Regions from separate parts of the Homo sapiens genome. Here region 2 is linked to region 1. A link means that fine-mapping ties the variant in region 1 to the expression of a gene that starts in the linked region. Tissue or cell type: cultured neurons. Region 1 holds a variant in brackets; the other region holds the start of a gene. All regions are shown on one strand. Distances are from middle to middle. Region 1 overlaps NIPBL (NIPBL cohesin loading factor). Region 2 holds the start of NIPBL-DT (NIPBL divergent transcript).

Evidence for each region.
Region 2: NIPBL-DT starts here. The variant in region 1 is fine-mapped to the expression of NIPBL-DT in cultured neurons (Aygun 2021, PIP 0.95).

Annotation. Positions count from the first base shown.
Region 1 is chr5:36,926,433-36,935,487 of GRCh38, reverse strand. The region is part of intron 1 of NIPBL (NIPBL cohesin loading factor); the gene reads right to left. Among named protein-coding and RNA genes, the nearest start is that of NIPBL, 54 kb to the right of the region's middle. The variant AAC/C (reference allele first, on the strand shown) is at 3,701.
Region 2 is chr5:36,871,824-36,880,878 of GRCh38, reverse strand. It overlaps NIPBL-DT (NIPBL divergent transcript), which reads left to right and starts at 4,185. Exons shown (of 1, transcript NR_046262.1): 1 at 4,185-9,055. NIPBL (NIPBL cohesin loading factor) reads right to left here and starts at 4,110. Exons shown (of 47, transcript NM_133433.4): 1 at 3,701-4,110. RefSeq lists silencers at 3,485-3,604, 4,245-4,354 and an enhancer at 4,765-4,814.

The sequences.
Region 1 (9,055 bases):
ACTGGTCACTGAATCTTGAAGTCTGAGAACTGATCACTAGACTTGATGCAAGTTACTGGTGACTTAGAGAAGACCCATTTTGAAAACGGTGGGACAGAAGAGCAGAAACCTGTTTAGAGTAGGTTTAACAAAGAATAGGAGGACAAATGTGATGTCAGGTACTTGTGAAAACTTTTCTGATTGCCTTGATGAAGAAGAGATGTTGGAGGTTTTCAGGAGAGGAAAAAGAATGAAACAATCATCTAGGAGAGTGAATGGATCAAAGAAGTGTGGTACAATTGCTGGGTAACATTAAGAGCCCACTGCCTTTAAAGTGAGACCAGTCATTATGTTTTTTGAATTATTTTCCAGTCCCACTTAGCTGCAAGGGTGAGATTTAACCAAAGCTGTGGTTTTGCCAAAACAGAGAGGAGCGAAGGAACTGAAGGTATTTGTATGCAAGGAAATGATTAAATGACCTTTGAATTTAAGCTACAAGGAGGAAAAGAGGGACACTGAAGAGAAGAGAAACAGTATTGCAACATTCAACGCGCATGGTGAGTGTGAGTCCTTCTATCTGGTAACTCATTCTTTGGTTTCTGTGACTCAATCTTCTTTCTTGTACCTTAGATTGACTCTACTGACTCCACTTTCTCCAGTGGTTCATTATCTTTGATAATTTCTTAACTCTAGCTACTTAGGTCTACCTATAGCTCTTCAAAAATTCATTTATTTCCATGGCCTCTGAAAGTTCTTCATAGCTTCATTATGTGGGAATTCATTCATGATTCTTTTTTGGCACTACAAATTCTTACAGTACCAATGTATGAATGTGTCAATGTGACAATCATTTCCCCTTAAAATGTTAGTGCTCAAATATTTCTAAAATGAAAAGCCACTATCTGTAATCTTATAATTTCTACCATTGCTCCCATTCATTAGTAATCTAAACTGTAAAGTTGACCCACTGTAAATCAAGGACTGTCTATGTTACTATTTTATCATGACACCTAGACAAAAATCTATCTATCCTCTATTCCTCTATCATTTCACTTACCATCCTTCAAGTTCCAACTCTTCCTGGAAACCATCCTCTACCTACCATTTTACTTTACAATCTTTTCCTTTAATGAATTTCTGTATTAGATGCACACAAAGTCAGCATCCAGTCATGCATAATTACATTCTATCAAATCATTTCACTGGCACCTTAGGTACAGAATCTTGTCTCATTAATTTTTAAAAATTAATTTTTGAAATCTTTCCATAATACCTAGCACAATGCTGGTCATATGGTTACCAGGTTGAAATAAAATATAACACTGCTAGAGAATGTATTAGATAAAAAACACAACGTCTTACACAATCAAACACTAAGTTAAAGAGTGTGAAATCTGGATGCTGAGCAAGTTCATGTAGTTAAAATGATGACACCAGGTGGTCATATACAAACATAAATCAAGTGATCTTAATACCATGATCTTTACATGTTAAACTTACATTAGCCACGTCACATTTGTTTTTTATTAGAAAGAGAACCTCATTTTAACAGAGACCTATCAGTTAATTATAGAAACTGCCCACCCCCCCATACTCTTATTAAGAAAAATAAGAGTTGAAGTTTTACATGGACTGAAAATGTAAAAATCCTTGGGAAAATTGAGAATAAAATCCAAAACAGATCCACAAAAAGCTAGCAATATGAGTAACTTTTTACTTATAAAATATAAATATGGTATAGTTGATGAAGGAGCAAGGAAGATTAATCAATAAAAGCCAACTGGTATCTTACTGCTACCGAATTAAATGGAATTGGGTAATTTTCACTACTGGTGTCTGAAACCATACAGAAAAATCTGCTCAGCCTTAGATTTAATTAAATTAAAAAATTAAATGATCAAAAATTACCATTAGATTGACATTAAAAACAAACTTCTTTTACCATGTTATGGATTCTAATTTATAATCCTTTTCTTTCCTGAAATCGGATCAAATTTTCATCCATCCAAGACTAAAGTCCAGAAATAAAAAATGTCTCTAGAACTATATCTCATCAGATGTCAGCAAATAATATATGAGTAAGTTTTGAATAACCACTATATAAACATATCAAGTATTATTTCCACAGACCCTTTTGACCAAACAGAATCACAGAATTTTAAAGGTAGAAGAAAATTTAAAATTAAGAGTTCAAATTGGAAAAATACCATTCTACTATGTAATGAGGAAACTGGTTATTATAAGTAACCATGAAACTCGTAACAGAATTCAATATGACACTGCTAAAAATAACTAAGTATAAAAATTAGGATTTTAAAAACAGTACATTTTTAAAAAACAGTATGTTTTTAAAAACTTATCTACTTTAAACTTTATTAAAGGAAGAGTTTTTCTACTACTATACTGGAATAAAAATTTAACTATACAAGTAGATTGTGATAAATTAAGAAGCATATTGTAATCCCTACAGTAACCTCCAAGGAAATAACTCTAAAAAGTTGTTTTAAAAAAAATCAAGAGAGCTGCATGCAGTAGCGTACACCTGTACTCCAATGTACTCCTATATGCCTGTACTCCCAGCTACTCACAAGGCTGAAGTGAAAGGATCACTTGAGCAGAGAGTGTGAGTCTGTAGTATGCTATGATGGCAGTTGTGAATAGCCAATACACTTCAGCCTGGGCAACAGAATGAGATCCTGTTCTTTAAAAAAAAAAAAAAAAAAAAAAAAACAGCAGAGGAATTTAAATAGTACACTAAAAGAATATTTAACACAAAAGAAGGCAGTAAAGGAAGAATGGCATAAGTAAATTCACCCATATCAAAAATCACATTAAATGGGAATAGGCTAAATATGACAATCAAAAGCCAAAAACTATCATATTGGTTCAAATAACAAGACCCAATTATATACTTCTACAAAAGACACTCTTTGATTCAAAGATACAAATAGGTTGAAAGTAAAATAATAGAAAATATACTCCATACAAACAGAAACAATAAAAAAGCTGGAATGGCTATTAACAGCAGATGAAACAGACTTGAAGATAAATAGTAATAAAGAAAAAGAGGGATATTTCATAATGATAGAGTCAGTACATAAGGAAGATATAACGTTTATACATGTATTCATACCTAACAACGAAGTTGCCACATATATGAAGCACAAACCGACAGAACTGAATGATAAATATAACTAGAGAGAAAATTAACAATGATGTAAAAAACTTCAGCAACACTATCAGCCAAAATGACCTAACTTAAGTTTACAGAACACTCCACCCAAAGACCACAGAATACTCAATGCCTTTTAAGCATACAAGAACATTCTCCAAAATTGATCACATGCTGGACCATGAAATAAATCTCATTAAATTTACAACAAATCATATAAAGGGTGTTCCCTGACAACAAAAGAATAAAATTAAAACCCATAACCGAAAGAAATCTGAGAAAATCAATGGGTCAAAGAAGAAATCATGAGAGAAATTAAATACTTAAAACTGCATGAAAATGAAATCACAACATATTAAACTTCATGGGATACAGCTAAAGCAGTTTTATAGGAATATTTATAGCTTTAAATGCCCATATTAGAAAGAACAGCCTCGAATCAGTATTTATGCTTCCATACCTTAAGAAACTAGAAAAAGTGTAAACAAAATCAAAAACAGGAAGAAGAAAAAAATAAAGATAAAAGTAAAAATAAACAAAAAAAAAAAA[AAC/C]CAGAGACATACGAATGAATTCAAAAATTAGTTCTTAAAAAATAATCAACAAAATTGACAATGTCTTAAATAGAATGATCAGGAAAGTAAGAGAGAACAGACACAAATTACCAAAATCAGAAATGAAGGAGAGGAAATCACTACCAATACTTTAGAAATTAAAAGGGAAGGCCCGGTGTGATGGCTCATGCCTATAATCCCAGCACTTTCCAGGCCAAGGTGGGCAGATCATTTGAGTCCAGGAGTTCGAGAGCAACCTGGGCAACAAGGAAAAACCTCGTCTCTATAGAAAATACAAAAATTAGCCAGGCATGGTGGCATGCACCTGTGGTCTTAGTTTCTCAGGAGGGTTAGGTGGGAAGATCACTTGAGCCTAGGAGGCAGAGGCTGCAGTGAGCCGAGATCACACCACTGCACTCCAGCCTGGGTGACAGAGTGAGACTCCTTTTCAAAAAAATAAAAAAAGAAAGAATTAAAAGGGAATATTAACTTTAAGCCAACAAATTACACAACTTATATTAAAAAAAAAGGAAATTCTTCAAAAGACAAATTACCAGAACAGACTCAACAAGAAATAGAAACTCTGAATAGATCCCTAACAAATAAGAAAACTGAACTACTTATTAAAAATCTTCACACTAAGAAAGCCTAGGCACAGACGATCTCACCAATGATTTTTATGAAATATATAAGAAAGAATAGCAAACTTTTATAAACTGTTTTATAAACTAGAGAATATTTCCCAGCTGAGTCTGGTATCACCAAAGCCAGACAGAGACAATGCAAGAAAACTACAGACCAATATCCCTCATGAACACACATACAAAAATTATTTTTTAAAAACTGGCAAACCAAATTCATCAACATATAAAAATGACTACACATTATGACCAAATGGGATTTATCCTGTGAATGCAAGGGTGGTTAACCATCTAAAAATAAATTAATGTAAAACATCTTATTAATAGAAATAGCAACTAAAGCTACATGACCATTTTGAAAGACACAGAAAAACACTTGACAAAATCCAACAACCACTATTTTTTAAAACTCTCAAAAATTAGAAATAAAAAGGCTCTTCTTCAACCTAATAAAGAGCATCTATGAAAATTCTACAGCTAACTTCCCTATCAGGAGAAAAACAAAAATGCCTGTTCTTATTCCTTCCACTGAATATTGTCCTGTAGGTTTTAGTTAGTACAGCAAAACACCAAAAAGTAACACATTTTAAGAAAAAAACTTAAAAAGATATTAAATGCATTCAGATTAGACAGGAAGAAATGAAACTGCATTATCAGATGACACTGTCCAGTATGTAGAAAATCCTAAGAAACCACCAACGAACAACTAGAATCAAAAAAAAGCTCAGCTAGATCACAAGATAGAAAATCAACATACAAAAATCAGTTGTATTTCTATATTCTAGCAAAAATGCAAAAATGAAATTAAGAAAACAATTCCATTCAAACTAGGACCATGAAGAATATTTGGGAATAAATTTTTAAAAATCAGTATAAGATTTGTATTTGCACACTGTTATAAGACACTGCTGAGCCAAAAAGATCTAAAACATTCCATGCTCATAAATTAGAAGACTCAAAATTGTTAATATGGTAATTCTCTTCAAATTGATCTATAGATTCAACATAATCTTTTTCAAAATCCCAGCTGTTTTTTTTCCATAGAAATAAGCTGATCCTAACTTTATAGGAAAATACAAAGGATCTAGAATAGCCAAAATAATTTAGTGAAGAAAAAAGTTGGAGAACTTATACTACCCAATTTCAAAACTTACTATGAAGCTACAGTAATCAAGATTGTGTGCTATTAATATAAGGACAGGTATACGGATTGATCAATGAAGAGAATCTAGAGTCCAGAAATAAATCTTTGTATTTATGTTAGATTTTTCACAAAGATGCCCACAAAATTCAATGGAATAAAAGACAGTCTTGTCAACAAATGATTTTTAGATAACTGGACATTTACATGCAAAAATAAATTTAAAAACAGACCATTAACTTATACCATACACAAAAATTAATTCAAATGGATCAAATACCTAAATGTATGAGCTTAAACTATAAACCATCTAAAGGAAAATATAGGAGAAAACATCTGTGACCTTAGGTCAGGCAGAGTTCTTAGATGACAAAAACAAGGCAGAGTTCTTAGATAACAAAAACATGAGCCATAAAAGATAAAACTGATAAACTGGATTTCATTAAAGTTAACAATTTTCATAGTTCAAATGATATCAATAAGAAAATGAAAAGACAAGCCATAGACTGGGAGAAAATATTGCCAAATCACAAATCTGATGAAGCTCTTGTATTCAGAATTTAAATGAACTCTCACTAGTGAACAAGAAGATAACACAACTTTGAAAATGGGCAAAGAACTTACTTAAGACACTTCACCAAAGAACACATATGAATGGCTTATAAATATACAAAAAAAAGTGCTCAATATCACTTCACCAAAGAACACATGTGAATGGCTTATAAACATATAAAAAAAAGTGCTCAGTATCATTAGTCATTAGGTATATTCTCACTGAAACCACAATGATACCATGACACATCCATTAAACTGTCATAATGTTATAAAAAAAGACACTATTAACTGTTGGTGAAGATGTAGAGAAACTTGAACCCTTACACACTGCTGGTAGAAATGTAAAATGATACAGCCACACTGGAATACAGTTTGGCTGTTTCTTAAAAAGTTAATTATCATATGACCCAGCAATTCCATTCTTAGGAATGTATCCAAGATAAATAAAAACGTATGTCTACACAAAGATTTCTCCATGAATGCTCAAAAAAGTATTACTCATAAAAGTAAAAAACTGGAAATTATATAAGTATCTACCAACTAGTGTATAGACAAACAAAATATCATAATACAATGAACTACCATTCAGCAATAAAAAAGAACAAAATACTGATACGTTATGTCATAAATGAACCTCAAAACATGCAAAGTGAAAGAAGCCAGATGCAAAATACTACATATAATTCTTTTTAGATGAAATGTCCAGAAAAATTTATAGAAACAAAGAGCAGATCAGTAGTTGCCAGGACTGGAGAGGGCTGTGGGAGTTGGGAACTCACTGCAAATAGGCTTGAGGAAAATTTGGGGACTGATGAAAAGGTTCTAAAACTAGAAACCATTAAATTGTATACTTAAACAGGTGAACTTTATATTAAGCGGATCATACCTCAATAACGTTGTAAAGTAAAATTGCATCTAGAGATATTAATCTCCTTTATCTAGCTCTAAACATTTCTCCTTAGGTCAATATATTTTTCCTTAAGAAATTTTTTTAGTTAGTAAAAACATTTATTGTACATACTGATCATATACAGTACTAACAATTTCTGGGAATGCAAAAACAAACACTGTGATTTGGTTGTATTAATTAGCTCTAACTTGCACTTGACTAAAATTTCTTGAGAAGAATAGGCAAAGCAATCATGTTTTTAAGCAAGCTTACAAACTGTCACCTGCATGTAGTTAAAGACTACTTCACTTACCCTAGGATGACAGTTACATTCAATATAATTACCCTGTTTTGAAAAGATTCACTGATATATTAAAGTAGGAAGGCATCTTACAAATAATCTAGTCCAATCTCTTCGTTTTACAGATAAGAAAAAGATGAAATTACGTGTTCAAGACCACACATTCAAAGTTAGTTGCAAAGCTTCCCAGTCTCCTGACTTTCCTGCTCTTTTTGTGCATCGAGTATGGTTTTATTGAAAGAAAGTGGTAGAAAATTTAAAAAAAAAAAATCACTGCAGCCGGGCATGGTGGCTCATGGCTGTAATCTACTTCGGGAGGCTGAGGCAGGTGGATCACCTGAGGCCAGGATTTTGAGACTAGCCTGGCCAACATGGCGAAACCCGTCTCCTTTACCACTTTATTCTCCCTTGGTGATTTCCATGTCTCAAGGATTTTAAACACTATATATATTAAAGACTCCAGCCTGGACCTCTCTCCTGAACTCCAGACTGGTATATCCAACTGCCTATTTGATATCTCCATTTGGATGTCTAACAACCATCTCAAACTTACTTCCAAAATAAATTCCTTATACTGTTCTTCGTGCTTCTTCTACAATACTCCTAATTTTGATTAAAGACAACTCATTTGTCCAGTTCCTTTGGCCAAAAATCTTATTATCCTTGACTCCTATCTTTTTTACACAACTTTTGGATCGTGAGTCTCTACCTTCAAAATATATCCAAAATTCGACCATTTCCAAGCCACCATGCTCCCTTCCCAGACTCTTAATTGGTCTTTTTCACTCTTGCACTCCTTGGCAGTTAAACATAGCAATCAGAGATTCTATTAAAATACAGGTTGGATCATGTCACTCTTTTTGAAATCCTTCAATGACTTTTTCAGAGCAAAGGCAAAATCCTTATAATGATCTACAAGTTTAGAATATGAATAACATTTTAAACCAAAAATCCGCCTTGATATTCTTTTCTCCTCTCAGTAAAATATGCCTGTATCCTCCTTGAGAAAACAATACTTATAATATGTAAGTGTTATATAAATTGGTGAGAATATAACATTAAATGAAATGGAGTGGAGGATTCTTTCTTTTCTCAGATCTCATACACCTACAACTCTTGAACTCAAGTCGTGATACAAAAGCAGATGATAGTACACTGTTAATCATAAAGCAAATATTAGAGGGAGAATATACATATTTATAGGAAAAAGTGTTTATAGTTCTAACGTCAACAAAACCAACTTCTCCTTTCAAATCAAACCAATAAACATTTTGGTTCAGCTTCAGGAAAAATTGACTCCCATTATAGGTGCTCTGATTCTAATAACTGTTTAAATTTGTTCCCGGTAAAAAAATACATGAAACCATTTGCCCTATTACCAATTTTTTTCAACTTGAATTTACACAATCTAAAATAATTGGTTTAATTCAATGTGGCAGATTAAAAACCACATGATTAGTACTCATGGCATGCCTATACCAAAATATCTCACATACCCCATAAATATATATACTTACTATGTACCCACAAAAATAAAAAATAAAAACCACAAATTATTTGCTAGTCCTCATATTGAGGTAATGGCTAATTCCTCTCCTTTGAATCTGGGCTGACCTTTGTGACATGCATGGTGAATAAAATGCAGCAGAAAGGGGCTAGGTGATAAGAAATCTTACAGCTTTCAAATAAGCATGTTGACAATACTTTTTGGAAACCCTGATCCACTATGTTAAATATCACATGACCATGAAAAAGCCATGCTGATGATGCTGTATGCAGATGCTACACATGATGTCTCCGCTGAATCGAGCCTTTTGGCTGTCTCT
Region 2 (9,055 bases), 55 kb after region 1:
GTCAAGTATTTCATCATTAAACGGAAAGCTGGTCACTTCTCTCACAGGGATATCAGAATATTTTTAAATGAACTCAGGTCACCTTGAAAAAGGACTAGTTTTAAAATACGAAGAATTATTATAAATGACAACTGCTGAAAAAACGAAAAACTTTGCTTAAAAAGTCCATCTTAAAACAATTTTTAAAGGCTATATAAGACCATAAATTACCACCAAACCTAACCTAGTACGCTCAGGATATTAAAATAAGCATGTTCAACTGAACAGTTAGTTGTCAGCCTTCTATAAAGGTTCCTAGTCAATTATTTCCCATTCATTTTTATGGCAAGTAAATGTGATAAACAGAATTAAAGTTACATTTCTCTAAAAGGAATTACTGTTTACCTCACACTCCCTAATCACTTCACATAAAACTGAAATCTTAATTTAAAATTTTAGAATTTCTTCCAAATTATGCTTTTCCTAATAAGCACCAGAAAGGAGGATTAAATGAAATTAAATAAAACTCAAACTCCTGGTTTTTATTTACTCTTATATTATTAATTACTACATCTTATTTTGAGAAAGTAAAAATACCACAATGGGGTATTTCAAACATGTAACACAGATATGTTCAAATATTTCTATGACAGTTTGATGATGGATTGGTACCAAAAAATTAAATATGAAATTAGTTGAAGAAGCCTTAGAAAATACATTTTTCGGCTGCAAGTAAAGAAAATTTTGTATTGGTATAGCTTGCTCATATTTTTGAAATTTAATAATGATTACTATGAAGAACCAAGTTTACTGCCATAGTAAAAACTTTCACTTTACATCCCTAAAAAGAATCTCAAGTAGACTGTTTTTCTTTTTTCAAGTAATGTATAACTTTTCCTTAAAAGCAGAAAATATTATAATGATCTCTAGAACAGGTTCAAAAATGTTCTCAGATAACTTTAGTAAACAAATTGTTGAATAACTTTAAAAAGGAAGCATCCTATATACACTTCTCAAACATTGAAAATTATCTATTTAATGTTCAACTCTGATTTACTTTCATTATTTACTTGAAATCTCTTTTCAAGTAACAAAAGTTATTGACAACTCTTCAGAGTTAAGAGAAACAATAAGCGACATTGTTGAAATTTCCTTTAGGTGTATGAGAAAATATTTCTCCAAATAATATAACTAGGATTATAAGGTTACTGGAACACTTCTGATTTCTCCTTTCACTGAATTTTAATTTTTAATGGAAATAGATGATTAGCCACTAGTGAATATTCCAACCAACAGAGGGGAAGCAGAACACTCTACACTCTTTAGGGAAACAAACTATTCTCTCCAACTAGGTTATCAGAGATTTAAAGTTCAAGTTTAAATTTTACAATTTGAATTTTACACAATGTTTTCTCCTTTAAAAATGACGTATTTAATTGGTTTGGACCAAACAAAACATATTTTTAAATTTAAAGAAATGTTTATGCTATCATAATGAAAGCTATCACACAACCTATATTACTCACAAATTACTAAATATGTAGAATTGGGAAAATAAGTTGGGAAGAACTAATTCACTATAACAATTCCAAAGTCTCAGGAAAAAAAAGAATCAATCACATAAACCCATCTCTAACACACTTATTCAAACATCTGCATAAGACAACCTCTAAAAATAAGTTGCTTCAGTTCGTGAAAATTAAGCAAGCACAACTCCTCTATTATCTTTAGTAAAAATATGTTTATCCCTTGAAATAAAAGTTGTAGAGACAATCACAGGAATATATGAAGGCCTTTTAAACATTTATAATGAAGCCCTTACCACCTCCATCCCCAAAAAAACAAACCCTCTGCTTTCTTAAGATGTGAAGTATTCCTCCCGTCTGCATTCCCTCCCTGGCATGCCCCCCACTCGCACACCCCCCCACCCGCAGTAGGCCTGAGGCCCCGTAGCAAACAGTGTCTAACAGGAGCAGGCAGCACAAAGACAGGAATGGGAGATTAGTGGGAGGGAGGGAGGCCGGGATTGGGGCTCAGCAGGAGCTTCAGGCTTTTTAAAATTCAAACTGCTCCCTGACCAATACAAATCACGGACACGCTACTGACTACTACACGGATTTATAGCATTAAAAACATGCCTAGTACGTGACAGCTATATTAACTTCATTCTTTTAAACATTTATCCGTACGTTTGCAGGAAATGTGAAACAATTTATTGTAATCAGGACGCTAAACTCAAAAATAACCTCCACAAAATAACTTATTCTACAGTGACAATAATTTAATGACACAAAAAATATGAACCAATGTAACAAACACTAGTAAAACAAGGGATTTCGCTGAGCAGTGCTGCTTCATTTTAACCAATGAAAGTTTTCCTTCAGCGAATATGAAACAAAATATCAAAACGTGTAACCCAGGTACACTTTTCTAGCAATTTGCCTGACTGAGGAATTTTAAATTGGTGTTTCCCCCTTATACCAACCTACATTATGAACGCCTCCATAAACAAGCTCGAAACACTTAACTTACTCATGAACTAGAACTTGTCAAGTTAGAACTGATATTTTTCTCCAGCATTTACAGATACATTTAACCTATTAAAATGACACCTCTCTCATTACACAGTCAAACATCATGGCACAAACAGCCAATGACAATCCTGGGACCTCAAGAAGAACTGCCCTGACATAAAAGGATGGCACCTTCTACAATTTTTTAACCTCCCAAGGATTTTAAGTATAACTTAATTTCTTTTTTGGAAAAAGAAAAGAAAAGTGGTTTTACCCGTATCTCAGCACAATTCTCAGAACACTTAAAATTCTTTGTATGCTCCTACACGTTTTGGTCAGGAAGTACCTGAGTGTTTTACGTATAGTCGCTTAAAACTGCCCTTACATAACGCATACAAATAGAAAGTGGCAGAGTAAACCTGTCAAGTACTTTATACTTGTCTTTGAATAAAAAGTCCATGTGCAACAACACACTGTCAAAACAACAAGATAAAAGCTCTTGGGGAGGGGGAGATGTGCAGTGTCTACCACAGTATGTTTTTCTGTATTAAATATTCATGTGGACGATTTAATTCTTTAAAAAAGAAAATGAGTCTTTATGAACTTTCCAACGTCCAAACAAGTTTTAGAAAGAGAAAGAATTACCACTGGATCCGCGTCTGAGTATTTACGTTTGTCTCACTAACTGAAACTACTTCCTCCCTTCATGGGGTCACAGGGGGAAGAAGGGAGGTTGTTTGTTTCACTGGGACGTTCCCCACTCCCGGACCGGGAAAGTTGTAAATATGGGGACGATCAGGGCACATTTGCTGTTAGTTGTATTGTTTCCGCCTCCCCACTAGCTACGGCTCCACTCCCGGGCGAGGCCTGTCACCGACCAGCAGTCGCTCCGCTCAGCCCGGAGCTCTCCTAATCCCCGAGCTCAAGTAGATTCCGCTGGCCCGCGGCCTGCACTCTCCGCCGGGCCTACGCCTCCCCGGCCGCCCAGCAGGAGCCCAGTCCCCGCCACCGGAGCCGGCCGGGAGAGGGTACAAAACCACCGCTACCCAAGGCGGCTGCCACCAGAGAGGAGCGAACTCTAGACTCGCCTGTGGAAGAGACCTGGGGCCGCTAAGGAAACGGCGGGGAGGGGAGCGAGGAGGAGAGACGCTGAGGACCTGGCGCCGGCGCCGCCGCCGCCGCCGCCGAAATAAAGAGCAGGAATTTACCTGGGCGAATCGGCGTCTGAATCCAAGGGGAGGCCGAGGCCGCTGTGGCGAGAGACTATAATCCGGGCCGGGAGGGGGGGTGGCTACGGCTCCTCTTCCGTCTCCTCAGTGCGGGGAACATGTAGAGCCGGGGGGAGACCAGCCGAGAAGACAAATCGTTGCTTCTTCTTCCTCCTCCTCCTCCTTCTCCCACATAGAAACACTCACAAACACCCGACCACGGGCCCGAGCTACCGGGGGGGCATCGCCGCGGGCCCGGGAACCAATTCTCCTGTCGGCGGGGGCGTCCCTCCCTGCGGCTTGGTGGTGTCGGGTGAGTCGGTACCGACGGAGGGAGGGGGGGGAGGGCGGGGGGAAGGAGCCCTGTGTGTGTCTCTCTCTCGTTCCGTCTCTCCCTCTCAGAACAAAATGCCGACCGGAAGTGCAGCTGCAGGAATGACTCCCTCCGCCGGCGCCAAACACTAACAACCACCCCCTCTTCCCCACTCCACTTCCGCCACCGCCGCAGCCGCCGCTGCCGCCACTTGGGCTCGCGTCCTCGGCCGCGCCGCGCGGCACCCGGGCCCAGCAGCCGGGAGGCGGCAGCTCTCCTCTACGCCCGTCCCCTCAGGGCGGCTGTGGATGTTGCCAGTATTGTCGATGCTTCAGAGCGACGTTTGCCCTGCGACACAGGCGGGCCGGCTCTCCTCTGTCTTTATTTTCCTGGAGGCCGACAGGAGCGGGGCCCGAGTTCGGTGGTGGTCGTGAGCGTGGGGGGCACTCAGGCCCGGACGGGCTCTCAGGTCGCCGACGGCGGCGGCTGGAGGCCGCGCTGGCTGTCCCAGGTCGTCGTTAGCTTTAGGGAGCCGATCTCCGGGCGGCCCCACAGAGGACGCCCGCGATTCGATGGCGATGATGCCCGTTTTAAATGGTGTCCCTGCAGCCGGGTGGATGGATGGATCGTACACCTTGCCTTTTGAGAGCCGGGACCTTACGCCCGACTGCGTGTTATTTCTGCGAATAAGAACGCAACCTTTGGAGGTGAAGACGACTGTCGGCTGGATTGAATTGGAATCGTGTTTGTGATGATGCGTTTATTTCTGGAAATACGCGGTCTCCGCTGCTTTTGCTTTTTGTCGGCAGAGGTTTGGGTTCTTCTCTAACGGTCAGGATAAAGGCCTGTAGGCGACGCTGCGCGAGCGAGAAGCTCGCCCGCGGCTGCCCGGGCGCCCCCCTCTAGGTGTGGGTGGAGCCGAGCGCGCGGGGAGAACCGCCGGCCCCGACTCAGCCACCGGTGACTGCGGGCGACCCGCGGGCCTGCGGCCAGCTGATTTCAAACATCGTTTTCCTCTTTAGGTTCGGAAAACTGAGGCGCTGGACAAGGCTGGAATACAATATGTGATTATACGTACAGTACTATGGTTGTTGTAGTTTTTAAATTGTAAAACAAGAAGTAACCATTGTTCCACCGTTCTCTATTAAGTTTGTGTAAATTAAAAAGGGGCTATTTTCGGTAAAAAGTGCAGTAGGTAAGCGGAATTTTACTCAACCGGGACGAAATTCGTGTTATATGAATTGTATTGTGTATTTGTGTGTGTACCAGTGCGCTAAAAGTAAGTAGGAAAACTTGCTTAGATTATTCCTTTTGCCTCAGGCCACTCAGGGGGCCAAGATCCTGTCACTCCTTTTCTCTAGGCCCTGCGAATGGCTTCCCGTCTTGAGGGGAGTGAGCCAAAGCCTTGACTGCGGCAGAAGTCCCCGCGCGCCGTTGAGGGTGGGGGCGGGCCTGCCCTGGCATCCTTGCGAGTAGGACTCTTCCCTGAGCGTCGTCCACAGGGCTTGCTCCTTCACCTTCAGGATTTTGCTCGTGTCACTCGGTGCTTCCGCGGCTACTTTTAAACTGAAAGTTCCCTAGCCCCCTTCTCATTTTATCCTTTGGACAGTCTACATATCCATACTTGTTTATCTTCTTATCTCTCCTTCCCCAGTGCAATGTAAGCTCTAAGAGGACAAGAGGTTGTGTTTTTCTGCACTGGTGTTACGGCCCCCGCCTAGAATGCCACACAGTAGATGCGTAGTATGTGGTTAAGGAATGAATGCGATTATAAGGGCCTTGATGCTCCCCCATTTCTGTCTTTAATATGTACTTATATGCTACAGAGAGCTTTATAAAAGATTTAAAACACGTTTATTACAGAATTCTATAAAAATATATTGCTTCTAAACATTGGAAAGCCCTCCACAACACCAGAAACCCACAAATGAGGGATAAAATTTGTTTTTAGGCTTCTGTAAATGAGCATGCCCGAGGACAGTGCATCAAATGATCATATCCATACTGGGCCGATTATGTTTGCTCTTCTGAGTCTCAAACTGCATTCTTCATCTTGTCGTCCTCTGTCTTTCAAAATACATTAAAAGTGAGAATTTGGTTGGCTCAGAGCAAATCCAGCACTATTGGAAAAGTTCATTCAGCAAGTATTTATTGGGCACAAATGGGTACCAGGCACGCTAATTCAAAAGGTGTGTGTTTCTGAGGCTAGAAGGCCTTACATAAAGGACCACATGTGGCTACTTTGGTTGCTACTCAATTATGCTGTCAAGCAAAGCAAATGCTAGTGAAATTTATTTTTAGTTTTCTTCTGAAGAAAAGGTTCAATGAAAGCTGAGGTCAGGCTTGGTGTGGATATTTTAATTCACCATTTAGTTTGCTGTTTGCTTACACTTAGGTTAGCATTAGATATACTTAATCATGATTTTTGAGTACTATAAAACGTGAGAAATCTTATTTCCTAGTGGCTGGAAAAACAGGCTTTTTAAATTAAAATAAGTAAATATATCAGTAAGCTAGAAGCTATGCAATAAGGCTTTGGCTATGGTATTACAAATTTTCATATTTCATGTATTGAATTTTTGGACAAGAAAAGACAGCCTTGATAGGTATTTTATAACCATTAATACAATTAATCAAACATTGTTTAGTAAATCCAATCGTCTATTCATTATTATTTTTCCCATTAATCTTCAGAACAGCTTTAAGTTAATACAGATGACTCAGAATGTGTTTTTCACTCAGTTTCAAAATACCATTATTTCAATTCGCTAATAGAAGCACAATTATCTTCTTGTCTGCTTTCTTAAATGTTACTGGTAAACTAGTAATTTTGCATGTCCAGGTAACTGCAGCTGCTACAGTCAATCTGCTTTGGAAAGTCTTGGCATTATTGTGTCATTTAATTTAAAATTTTTAAGTTTTTTTAGTTTCTTCCCTTATTGAGGACTTATTAGGCGCTAATTAGCTTTATGCTAGACATCTCATGCATGGCAGTGAATGAAAACAACACTGCCTTTGAGGGTTTTAACTTGTATATAGTTTATACCATTTTTTTTCCAGGTTATAGAATCAAAGAAATTGTTTCAATTCATATCACAGTATTTCTCTATTAAATCAAATGGTATTTTGCTTGCATAAATTTAAGTATCCAAGTTGAGATCTTACATAGAATCTGTTAATCTAATATTAGTGTTTTCTTCATTTCATTGTCTTGGGTTTTTTTTTCTTAATAATTATTTTTCCCAATACCATCCATTTGTTTTGCTCTTACATTTTTAAGTCTTTTATGTTCCAAATCAGGTGACTTACATCCTCCACTTGTCCATTGAGGATAGCCCAGTAAACCTTTATTCTGACTTTAAATTGCCTCCTTGCTTCAAGAACTGAGTTGCATGACTCAGTTTTCTTTGCTAGAAATATCCCTGGATAGTCTCGTATGTATTCTTGATCAATGAATTGCAGAAGATTTGATTAAAAATTTTAAATGGATTTCAGGGATAAACTATTTGTATCAAATGTCATCACCAGGAATTTCTACAACTGAAAAATTTGAATTGTTATTTTTATTGAAGAATATTTATCTTTAAGATAAATGCAACTTGCTATAAAATGATAGAAATGAAAAATTTTAGAAAATCATTTTCTACTCACTATTTTATGCCTGCCAGTTATCCTTTGTTAGTGATAAAATTGTCTTTTATGGGAACGAATTTGTTAAAGGTAGAAAAAAAACTGGTAGTGTATGTATGTTTTATAGATTAGACACTACCAAAATTATTTAACATTTAGAATAATTAACTTGCTTTCAGGATGACAGATGACTTAAGAAACTGATGAAGGGTTAATTAAGGATATTGATTTTTAGGGCAGAACTACAAAATTATCAAATCACTTAACACTGTAAATATGTTCCTGTTTCAGGTTTTCAAAGTAAATACCTTAATCAAATTTGGAAATAGTATTTATGGATTTTATTCAACATAGATTATCTATTTTGTTAAAATTATAGAAATGAACAGTTCTTTTCCCATGGATGCCTTTTTTCATCTTGGCCTATTCTGATCCTTTAAGAACAAGCTTTGTCCTTTCATTAATACTTCTCACCTATAATTACGAATTTTCTCTAAACTTGTAGATTTTATTATCCATGCCATCTATTTATAATCCTATGACACTCCTATATTGTTTATGGTTTTTTTGTTTTTTTTTGTTTTTTTTTTTAGACGAAGTCTTGCTCTGTCACCCAGGCTGGAGTGCAGTGGTGCAATCTCGGCTCACTGCAAGCTCCGCCTCCCGGTTCACGCCATGCTTCTGCCTCAGCCTCCCCAGTACCTGGGACTACAGGCGCCCACCACCACGCCCGGCTAATTTTTTGTACTTTTAGTAGAGATGGGGTTTCACCGTGTTAGCCAGGATGGTCTCCATCTCCTGACCTCGTGATCCCCCGGCCTCGGCCTCCCAAAGTGTTGGGATTACAGGCGTGAGCCACTGTGCCTGGCCTTACTGTTTATGTTTTCATGCATCTATACCTTATGTTACTAAATCAAAGTGACCAGTTCCACATTATACTACAAGTTTCACTGTGTAATGCATAAGAATTACACAGAGGGAAGGGCCTCAAAAAATGCACTTCTGAAGTATTTTAATGTAAAATTATTTAAGACCATAAAGTTTCATGAAAGCCTAATCTTTCTGGAACCTACACATACTCTGCATGTGAACCAGAGTTAAACTAGTCAAGTATTTTAATACTGAACTAATCTGGAAAAACATCATTTAAAAAATTACTGTATTTATGAAGGAAGAATATAAAATCTGTTAAAAACTTAAAACATCTAAAATAGGTATGAAGAGAGGCTTATGGTGCTCATTTTAACAGCATTCTTGAGTAGGTTACCTTGCAGTCAAAGCATCTGCTCCAGACCAGTGTTTTAAACTGTGGATTATGGTACCACTATGGGTCATGAAATTAATTTATTGCATTATGACTAGCATTTTTTATTTAAAATAGAGAAAAGAATAGAAAATAAAAGCGTACATCA